2 separate regions of the Homo sapiens genome follow, and region 1 is linked to region 2. Evidence: fine-mapped expression QTL. A gene starts in region 2. The other region holds a variant in brackets. All regions are shown on one strand. Distances are from middle to middle. Region 1 has its middle 26 kb from the start of SLC38A7. Region 2 holds the start of SPMIP8 (sperm microtubule inner protein 8).

What was found. PIP is the estimated chance that this variant, and not a neighbour inherited with it, causes the effect. A credible set is the group of variants that fine-mapping cannot tell apart.
Region 1: its variant is the best candidate, but not a certain one, in a credible set for the expression of SPMIP8 in ileum (GTEx, PIP 0.54).

What each region holds. Positions count from the first base shown.
Region 1 is chr16:58,656,323-58,660,762 of GRCh38, reverse strand. No RefSeq gene overlaps it. Among named protein-coding and RNA genes, the nearest start is that of SLC38A7, 26 kb to the left of the region's middle. The variant G/A (reference allele first, on the strand shown) is at 2,276.
Region 2 is chr16:57,974,481-57,978,480 of GRCh38, reverse strand. It overlaps SPMIP8 (sperm microtubule inner protein 8), which reads right to left and starts at 1,937. Exons shown (of 8, transcript NM_199456.3): 1 at 1,847-1,937; 2 at 442-666. The coding sequence starts at 664.

The sequences.
Region 1 (4,440 bases), 680 kb before region 2:
AAAATCGCTTGAACCCGGGAGGCAGAGGTTGCAGTGAGCCAAGACTGCACCACTGCACTCCAGCCTGGGCGATAAAGTGAGACTCCGTCTCAAAAAAAAAAAAAAAAAAAAAAAAAAAAACAGAAAAAAAAACTGGGCTGGGCGCAGTGGCTCACACCTTTAATCCCAGCACTTTGAGAGGCCGAGATGGGCAGATCACTTGAGGCCTGGCCAACATGGCGAAACACTGTCTCTACTAAAAATACAAAATAAATTAGCCAGGCATGGTGGTGTGTGCCTGTAGTCCCAGCTACTCGGGAGGCTGAGGCAGGAAAATCGCTTGAACCTGGAAGGCGGAGGTTGCAGTGAGTCGAGACGGCACCACTGCACTCCAGCCTGGTCGAGTGTAAGATTCCATCTCCAAAAAAAAAGAAAAAATTAGCCCAGCGTGGTGGTACATACCTGTAGTCCCAGCTACTCTGGAGACTGAGGCACAAGAATCGCTTGAACCTGGGAGGCGGAGGTTGCAGTGAGTCAAGATCTCCCCACTGCATGCCAGCCTGGGCGACAGAGCAAGACTGTGTCTAAAAAAAAAAAAAGATGCATTAGTTAAGAGATGCTACAGATAAATCCTAAAATCCCAGTGGCTTAACACCATAAACGTTCATATCTCACTGACGTCACAGTCCAATGCAGGTGGCCCTGCTCAGGCACATGGAAGGCAAAGGTGAGGCTTGGGGCTAGCAGGTGGGTGGTTGAAAATAATACAAATTGCCGGGCGCGGAGGCTCACGCCTGTAATCCCAGCACTTTGGGATGCCGAGGCAGGCAGATCACGAGGTGAAGAGATCAAGACCATCCTGGCCAACATTGTGAAACCCCTTCTCTACTAAAAATACAAAAATTAGCTGCACATGGTGGCACATGCCTGTAGTCCCAGCTACTTGGGAGGCTGAGGCAGGAGAATTGCTCAAAACTGGGAGGCAGAGGTTGCAGTAAGCCGAGATCGCACCACTGCACTCCAGCCTGGAGACAGAGTGAGACTCCATCTCAAAAAAAAAAAAAAAAGCCGGGTGCGGTGGCTCATGCCTGTAATCCCAGCACTCTGGGAGGCCAAGGCAGGTGGATCACAAGGTCAGGAGATGGAGACCATCCTGGCTAACACGGTGAAACCCCATCTCTACTAAAAACACGAAAATTAGCCGGGCGTAGTGGCAGGCGCCTGTGGTCCCAGCTGCTGGGGAGGCTGAGGCAGGAGAATGGCGTAAACCCGGGAGATGGAGCTTGCAGTGAGCCGAGATCGCGCCACTGCACTCCAGCCTGGGTGACAGAGCGAGACTCCGTCTCAAAAAAAAGAAAAGAAAAGAAAATTATTTAAACAACAACAACAACAACAACAAAAAATGACATCCTCATCCTAATGTCCCACATACTTGTAAGCACTTGGTGTGGGAGTCAGATATGGAGAAAAGCCCGCTGAGCAGAATGCATAAAACTTGGGCTTTGGAGACCGAAAGATCAAAGTCTGACTCCCAACTAATTCCTCCATTGGCTCCTTAGCTATGTAACCTCAAGTAAGTTATTTAACTTCCCTGGATCTTAATTTCATCAGCTGCAAAAACAGGAGTAATCTGATGCTTAGCTTTCTCATCTCTCCAGTTCTCTATTGTTGCATAATAAACCACCCCAAAACTTAGAGGCTTTAAACACAAGTTTACTTTCGTAACAATCCTGTGGGTTGACCAGGATCAGCTGGGTGGTTCTTCTCTTCTGTGTAGTGTTAGTTAGAGCTAGAGCTGCAGCCATGTGGAGGCTTACTTGGGGCACAGTGTCCAAGATGGCGCACTCACTTGCTGACTGCTGGCTGGGAACTCGCCTGAGCTGTTATCTGGAGCATCTGCACATGATCTCTCCATGTGGTTTCAACTTCTCATAGTGTGGTGGCTGCATTCTTGGGAGAGTCCCAACAGTGGTGTGATCTGGGCTCACTGCAACCTCTGCTTCCCTGATCCTCCCACCCCAGCCTCCCGAGTAGCTGGGACTACAAGGGGCATGCCACCACACCCAGCTAATTTTTTGTATTTTTTTTGTAGGGGTCTTTTGTGTTTTCTTGATGGGGTCTCGCCATGTTGCCCAGGCTGATCTTGGATTCCTGAGTGCAAAGCAATCTGCCCACCTCAGTCTCCCAAAGTGCTGGGGTTACAGGTGTGAGCCACCATGCCCAGCCCAATAGTGAGCATTTCAAGAGGCCCAGAGAGAAGCATCTTCAGTTACAGGAGTCTCAGAATGCCACTTGC[G/A]TAGCATTCTCTCAGGCAAGTGAGTCACAGAGCCCAGCAAGATTCAAGTGGAGGGGAGCTAGACCCCATCTCTTCAAGAGAGAAGTGACAAAGAACTTGTGGCCATTTTGTCTAGCACATAATCTGGAAAATACACACAAATACTTGGATCAAAGGGTTTTTGCAAGAATTATATGGAATTCATAGAAAGTACCTTGCCCATAATGAGGGATGATTGAAGAAATAAATGAAAAAATAAATAAATAAACCATTGACTGTTGTTATTCTTTTAAAAGGTTACATTTGGCATCAAAGAGTACCTTAAGTAAATCAGGATGGAATTCTTCACATAAGAGGATTCACCTCACATCACTCTAAATAGCAAGCTTCCCTAGTTCCTGGAAAAGAGGACCTGGGTCATGTGTCATTTCACTGACATCCCACTAACTACAGTTGCACCCTGCACACTCAGTGAGGTCTCTTCTGAAGGCCCAACGTGGAGAAAGAGGGTCTTGCTGGGGATGTGACTAGTTCCATCTCCTGGAGGGTCAGTGGTTGGACCAGGAACCTGATTCCCAGCCACCAGCTAAAACTGAATGACATCCCTTGGGCTTTGGTTGTTGGTCAAAAATGAGAATGGGGTGGGGCGCAGTGGCTCATGCCTGTAATCCTAACACTTTGGGAGGCCTAGGTGGGTGGATCACTTGAGGCCAGGAGTTTGAGACCAGCCTGGGCAACGTGGTGAAACCCCATTTCTACTAAAAATACAAAAATCAGCTGGGCATGGTGGCACGCGTCTGTAATCCCAGCTACTTGGGAGGCCAAGGCACGAGAGTCGTTTGAATCTGGGAGGCGGCGGTTGCAGTGACCTGAGATTGCACCATTGCACTCCAGCCTGGGTGACAGAGCAAGACTCCATCTCAAAAAAAAAAAAAAAAAAGTTTTCAAGTCATAGCCTCATCCTCGATAAACTGCATTTTATTATGGGAGACAGGGAAGGGGATTCATTTGTTTAAAATAAAACGATTAAGATGATACAAGAGGGCCTGGCACAGCAGCTCACACCTGTAATCCCAGCATTTTGGGAGGCCAAGGTAGGTGAGTCACTTGAGCCCAAGAGTTCAAGACTAACCTGGGCAACATGGTGAAACCTCATCTCTACTAAAACTACAATTAGCTGGGTATGGTGGCACACGCCTGTAGTCCCAGCTACTTGGGAGTCTGAGGTAGAAAGATCACCTGAGCTTGGAAAGTCAAGGCTGCAGCGGGCCAAGATTGCACCACTGCACTCCAGCCTGGGTGACCAGAGTGAGGCCCTGTCTAAAAAAAAAAAAAAAAAGAAGAAAAAAGGGTGATATAAGGGCAAAGAAGGAGCATAGAATTACACTCTGTCAATAAAAAGATAAGGAACGCCAGAGGACTCTGAACTCCTTCCTAGCTCCCTCATGAATGACCTCTGAGCCAGGAGCAAGTCCTACAGTCTCCTCCTCTGAAAGCCGGGAGCTTCTCCAACCTTTCAGCATTCCCATTTTGAGATTTCATGGGCTGTGCTTTGGGTTGGTGATCCTATGGCCAGCTCTTGACTTTTCTCTTCCCGGGTCACCCTGGATTCCATTCAGCCAGTTCATGCACATATGTATCCATGCATCCATTCATGTATCCATCTGTCCTTCATCCATTCATCCATGTGTCTTTCTTTATTTCCTGCCCCCCACCCCGCCCCAAGACGGAGTCTTCCTCTGTGCCCCAGGCTGGAGTGCAGTGGCACAATCTCGGTTCACTCTTGGCTGACTGAAACCTCTCCCTCCCTGGTTCAAGCTATTCTCCTGTCTCAACCTCCCGAGTAGCTGGGATTAACAGGTGTGCCACCATGTCCGGCTAATTTTTGTATTTTTAGTAGAGATGGGGTTTCACCATGTTGACCAGGCTGGTCTTGAACTCCTGAACTCGTGATCTGCCCAACTCGGCCTCCCAAAATGCTAGGATTACAGGCGTGAGCCACTGTGCCAGGCCTTTTTTTTTTTTGAGACGGAGTCTTGCTCTGTTGCCCAGGCTGGAGTACAGTGGCATCATCTTGGCTCACTGCAACCATTGCCTCCCCAGTTCAAGGGATTCTCCTGCCTCAGCCTCCCAAGCAGCTGGGATTACAGGCATGCACCACTACACCTGATTATTTTTTGTATTTT
Region 2 (4,000 bases):
GCAACCTCCGCCTCCCAGGTTTAAGCAATTCTCATGCCTCAGCCTCCCAAGTAGCTGGGATTACAGGTGCCTGCCACCACGCCTGGTTAAGTTTTGTATTTTTAGTAGAGATGGGGTTTCACCATGTTGACCAGGCTGGTCTCAAACTCCTGACCTCAGGTTATCAGCCTGCCTTGGCCTCCCAAAGTGCTGGGACTGCGCCCAGCCTCTAAGTGTTTTTTGTGCCTTATCTCCTTCTAACCCCACAACAACACTTTGAGGTAGGCCTTGTCAATTATCCTCATTGTACTGAGCAGTAAACAGAGGCTCAGACCTGGCCAAAGTGTCCTGGGCAGGGAGCAGCAGAGCTGGGACTGGCCTCTTTCATCCTTGCATCTGTCTCCCTCTTTCCTGAAACCATCTGCCCCTTCCCCAAAGGGGATCCTACACTGGTGTCCTAACCTTTGCGGCAGTAGGTGGTGGACTGGCAGTGCTCATCAGGAAGGCAGGCCTTGACGGTGTCCCTGTCCATGTGGCGCAGGGTGGGCAGGGCTGGGTGGTAGAGCTGCTGCTTCACGCCCGCCAGCTGGTTGCGCTGCCGCTCCATGGGAAGCAGGATGGCCGGGGAGGCATACACATGTGTGGAGCCATCGTCCCAGGGCACCAGGTCAATGATGCGGGCCATAGCTGGGGGGCAGAGGGTTCTAAGGGGCTCACCCTGGGCTCATGCTGGCCAGACACCCTTCTCTGCATGAAAACAACCTTGGCCAGTGCCGATGTCTACTTGCCAAACATTTATTTAGCACCTACTGTGTGCCAGGCCATTTTTCTGGAGCTCAGCATGAGGTGGCAGGAACATTCAGATAACAGAAGATAACAGAGACAACCCTCCCACTCCCCTTCCAACACACACATACACACACACACACACACACACACACTCACATTGTGCCATGGCTGTGAGGGAGGTCAGTACAGAGTGTGTGTTTCTGGGGAGGCTGGGGTTAGGACATTCAAGGAATGGTCTAAAAGAGGTGGTATTTGAGTCTATTCGTTTTTTTTTCTTTCTTTCTTTTCTTTTTTTTTTTTTTTTTGAGACAGTCTCACTCTTCTGCTCAGACTGAAGTACAGTGGCGCCATCTTGGCTCAATGCAACCTCTGTCTCCTGGGTTCAAGTGATTCTCCTGCCTCAGCCTCCTGAGGAACTGGGATTATAGGCATCCACCACCACATGTGACTAGTTTTTGTATTTTTAGTAGAGACGGGGTTTCACTGTGTTGGCCAGGCTGGTCTCGAACTCCTGACCTCAAGTGATCCACCCGCCTCAGCCTCTCAAAGTGCTGGGATTACAGGTGTGAGCCACCTTGCCTGGCGAGTCTATTCTTAAATAATAAGCAGGAAAGTGCAGCAGCAAGCGGGTTCAGAATGTAGCTTAGTATGCCGTATACCTCTGGGTGAATAATTATGGACTTGCCCTAGCTATTTACCCAAAATTCTACAGATTGACTCAGAAAGATTTTCAGGAAGGGGAGCAACATGATATATTTAAACTAGAAAAGCATTACTGGATACCCAGTGCCTCCCTTTAAAAAGCAGATAGTCCCAGGAGCCTTTCAGTCATTTACACTTTAGTGAGAATTTGTTGAGACAGCTTGCTTTCTTCCTGACCCTGAGTTAGAGGTGAGAGGTGGAGGTGGAAGCTAGGGTGGCAGGAGGAGAGAGGACCTTAGATCATGGAGGAGCAGGGAGGGGGCATGGTGACAAGGCATGGGGAAGCTGCCTTAGGGGATGTGACTGCCTGGGGAGGGACAGGGAGGGGGATCACGGATATGGGGAAGAGAGCAAGGGCTCCCTGCTTCTGACTCACCAATAGCAGCTACCTTATCTGTAGGGCCCAGGCCCAGGTGCACAGGCTTATAAGGACTTTCAGTTCTTTGACTGCTCAATGGGCAGAAGAGGAAGGGAGGTGGACGAGCCCTTATTATGGACAGCAGCAGAATAAAGGAACATTGTGCACAGACAATGCCCATTGCAGCCTGATTCTGAGGCACCCACTCCTTAGCAACCCTGGCAACTACAGGCTCTAACAAGAGCCTGTGCCAGAATTCCTGTGCTCTGGCCACTCCCTTCCAGCCTTCCTGAAGGCTGTGGTCTCCCAGGCCTTAGCACAGGCCAGGCATCTTGGGAAATGTCAGATGGGGAGCTGGGGTTCCCTGGAGGTAGTCAGGCCAAGGCAGGCCAGAAATGGCTACTGAGCCCACTGCAGGCTGTGTAATCCTGGGCTAATTACCGCCTCTCTCTGGGACTCAAGGCTCTCCTCTGTGTTAGGCAAGGACTCTAGGATCTGCCGTTAGGAGGATCTGGATGCTGAGAGGGATCTCCCCTCCCTGGAACCCTCAGGGAAGAGGGCACTGCACTGTCTGCCAGCCCTTGAGTCTCCAGGAGTGGAGATTAGCTGTGGCCAGTATCCAGGGTAAGCGTGAGGGGATCAGGGAGAGTGGTGGACTCAGCAGGCCAGGGATTAGCAGATGATACTCCACCCTCAGCCCCTGCAGGACTGCAGGCTCCCAGAAAAGCCAGGCTGTGAGTGCCCAAGGCCAGCACCCCAAAGCCCTGGGGCCTGCCCACCATCCTGGTCACAACCATTAGAGACAGACCCCCAAGGTGAGGAAACCCCAGGAGATCCTAACTTATTTGCATATATTGGCATGTGCTTTTGCATATACCTGCCCAGGGGCTGAACCTGATGGGTCTTGGAGCCCCTCCTGTGAAATTCTTGTAGGATTTGTTTCCCCAGTTGCTCCTCCTCCAGTGCTCCATACAGCTTCCAGAACAGCATTCCTAACTGCTACCCCTTACAAAAAACCTTCCCAGAGTTGACTCCACTCACCACCCCACCCCCAATTTATTTCTTGACTCTTTTAAAGTTATAAAATAGAAGAAATACAGAAAGTGAATAAATATCTAATGTAACTAATAATTTACAAAATGAGACCCCGTATAACTACCACCCACCCTGGTCAAGACATGGAGTACTACTTTTAAAACAGTTTATCAGTTTCTTAAAAAATGAAACAGAAATGTACCATATGATTGGGTCATCTGGAAGATTCTACCCCAGGAGGCTTCCCAAGAGAAATGAAAGTATATTGTGAGGCACGATGGCTCACACCTGTAATCCCAGCACTTTGGGAGGCTGAGGTGAGCAGATCACTTGAGGTTGGGAGTTTGAGACCAGCCTGGCCAACATGGTGAAAACCTGTCTCTACTGAAAACACAAAAATTAGCTGGGCGTGGTGGTGCAAGCCTGTAATCCCAGCTACTCAGGACGCTGAGGCAGGAGAATCGCTTGAACCTGGGAGGCGGAGGTTGCAGTGAGCCGAGATCGCAGCATCGCACTCCAGTCTGGGCGGCAAGAGCAAGACTTCGTCTCAAAAAAAAAAAAGTATATATCTTCACAAAGACTTGCACACAAATGTTCATAGCAACATGATGTATCGCCAAAAAGTGGAAACAACCTGTGTCCACTGATGAGTGGATAAACTGTGGTGCGTCTATACCATGCAATACTCTTGGGCAATGAAAAGAAATGAAGTTCTGATACAAGCTACGAGGTGGATGAACCTCATAAAACATTACGCTACATCAAAGAAGCCAGATGTGAAAACTCACATATTGTATGACCCATTTATATAAAATGTCCAGGAAAGACAAATCTATAGACGCAGAAAGCAGATGTGTGGTTGCCTGGGACTGGGGTGTACGAATGAAGAGTGGTTATCATCTGGTGTGAGGGGTCTTACTGGGGCAACGGGAATGTTCTAAAACCAGATGTGGCAAGAGTTGCACAGTTCAGTCAATGTGTTAAAAATCATGAGTTAGGCCGGGGCGGTGGCTCACGCCTGTAATTCCAGCCCTTTGGGAACCCCGAGTGGGTGGATTGCTTGAGCCCGGGAGTTCGAGACCAGCCTGGGAAACATGGCGAAACCCTGTCTCTACAAAAAATATGAAAATTAAATGG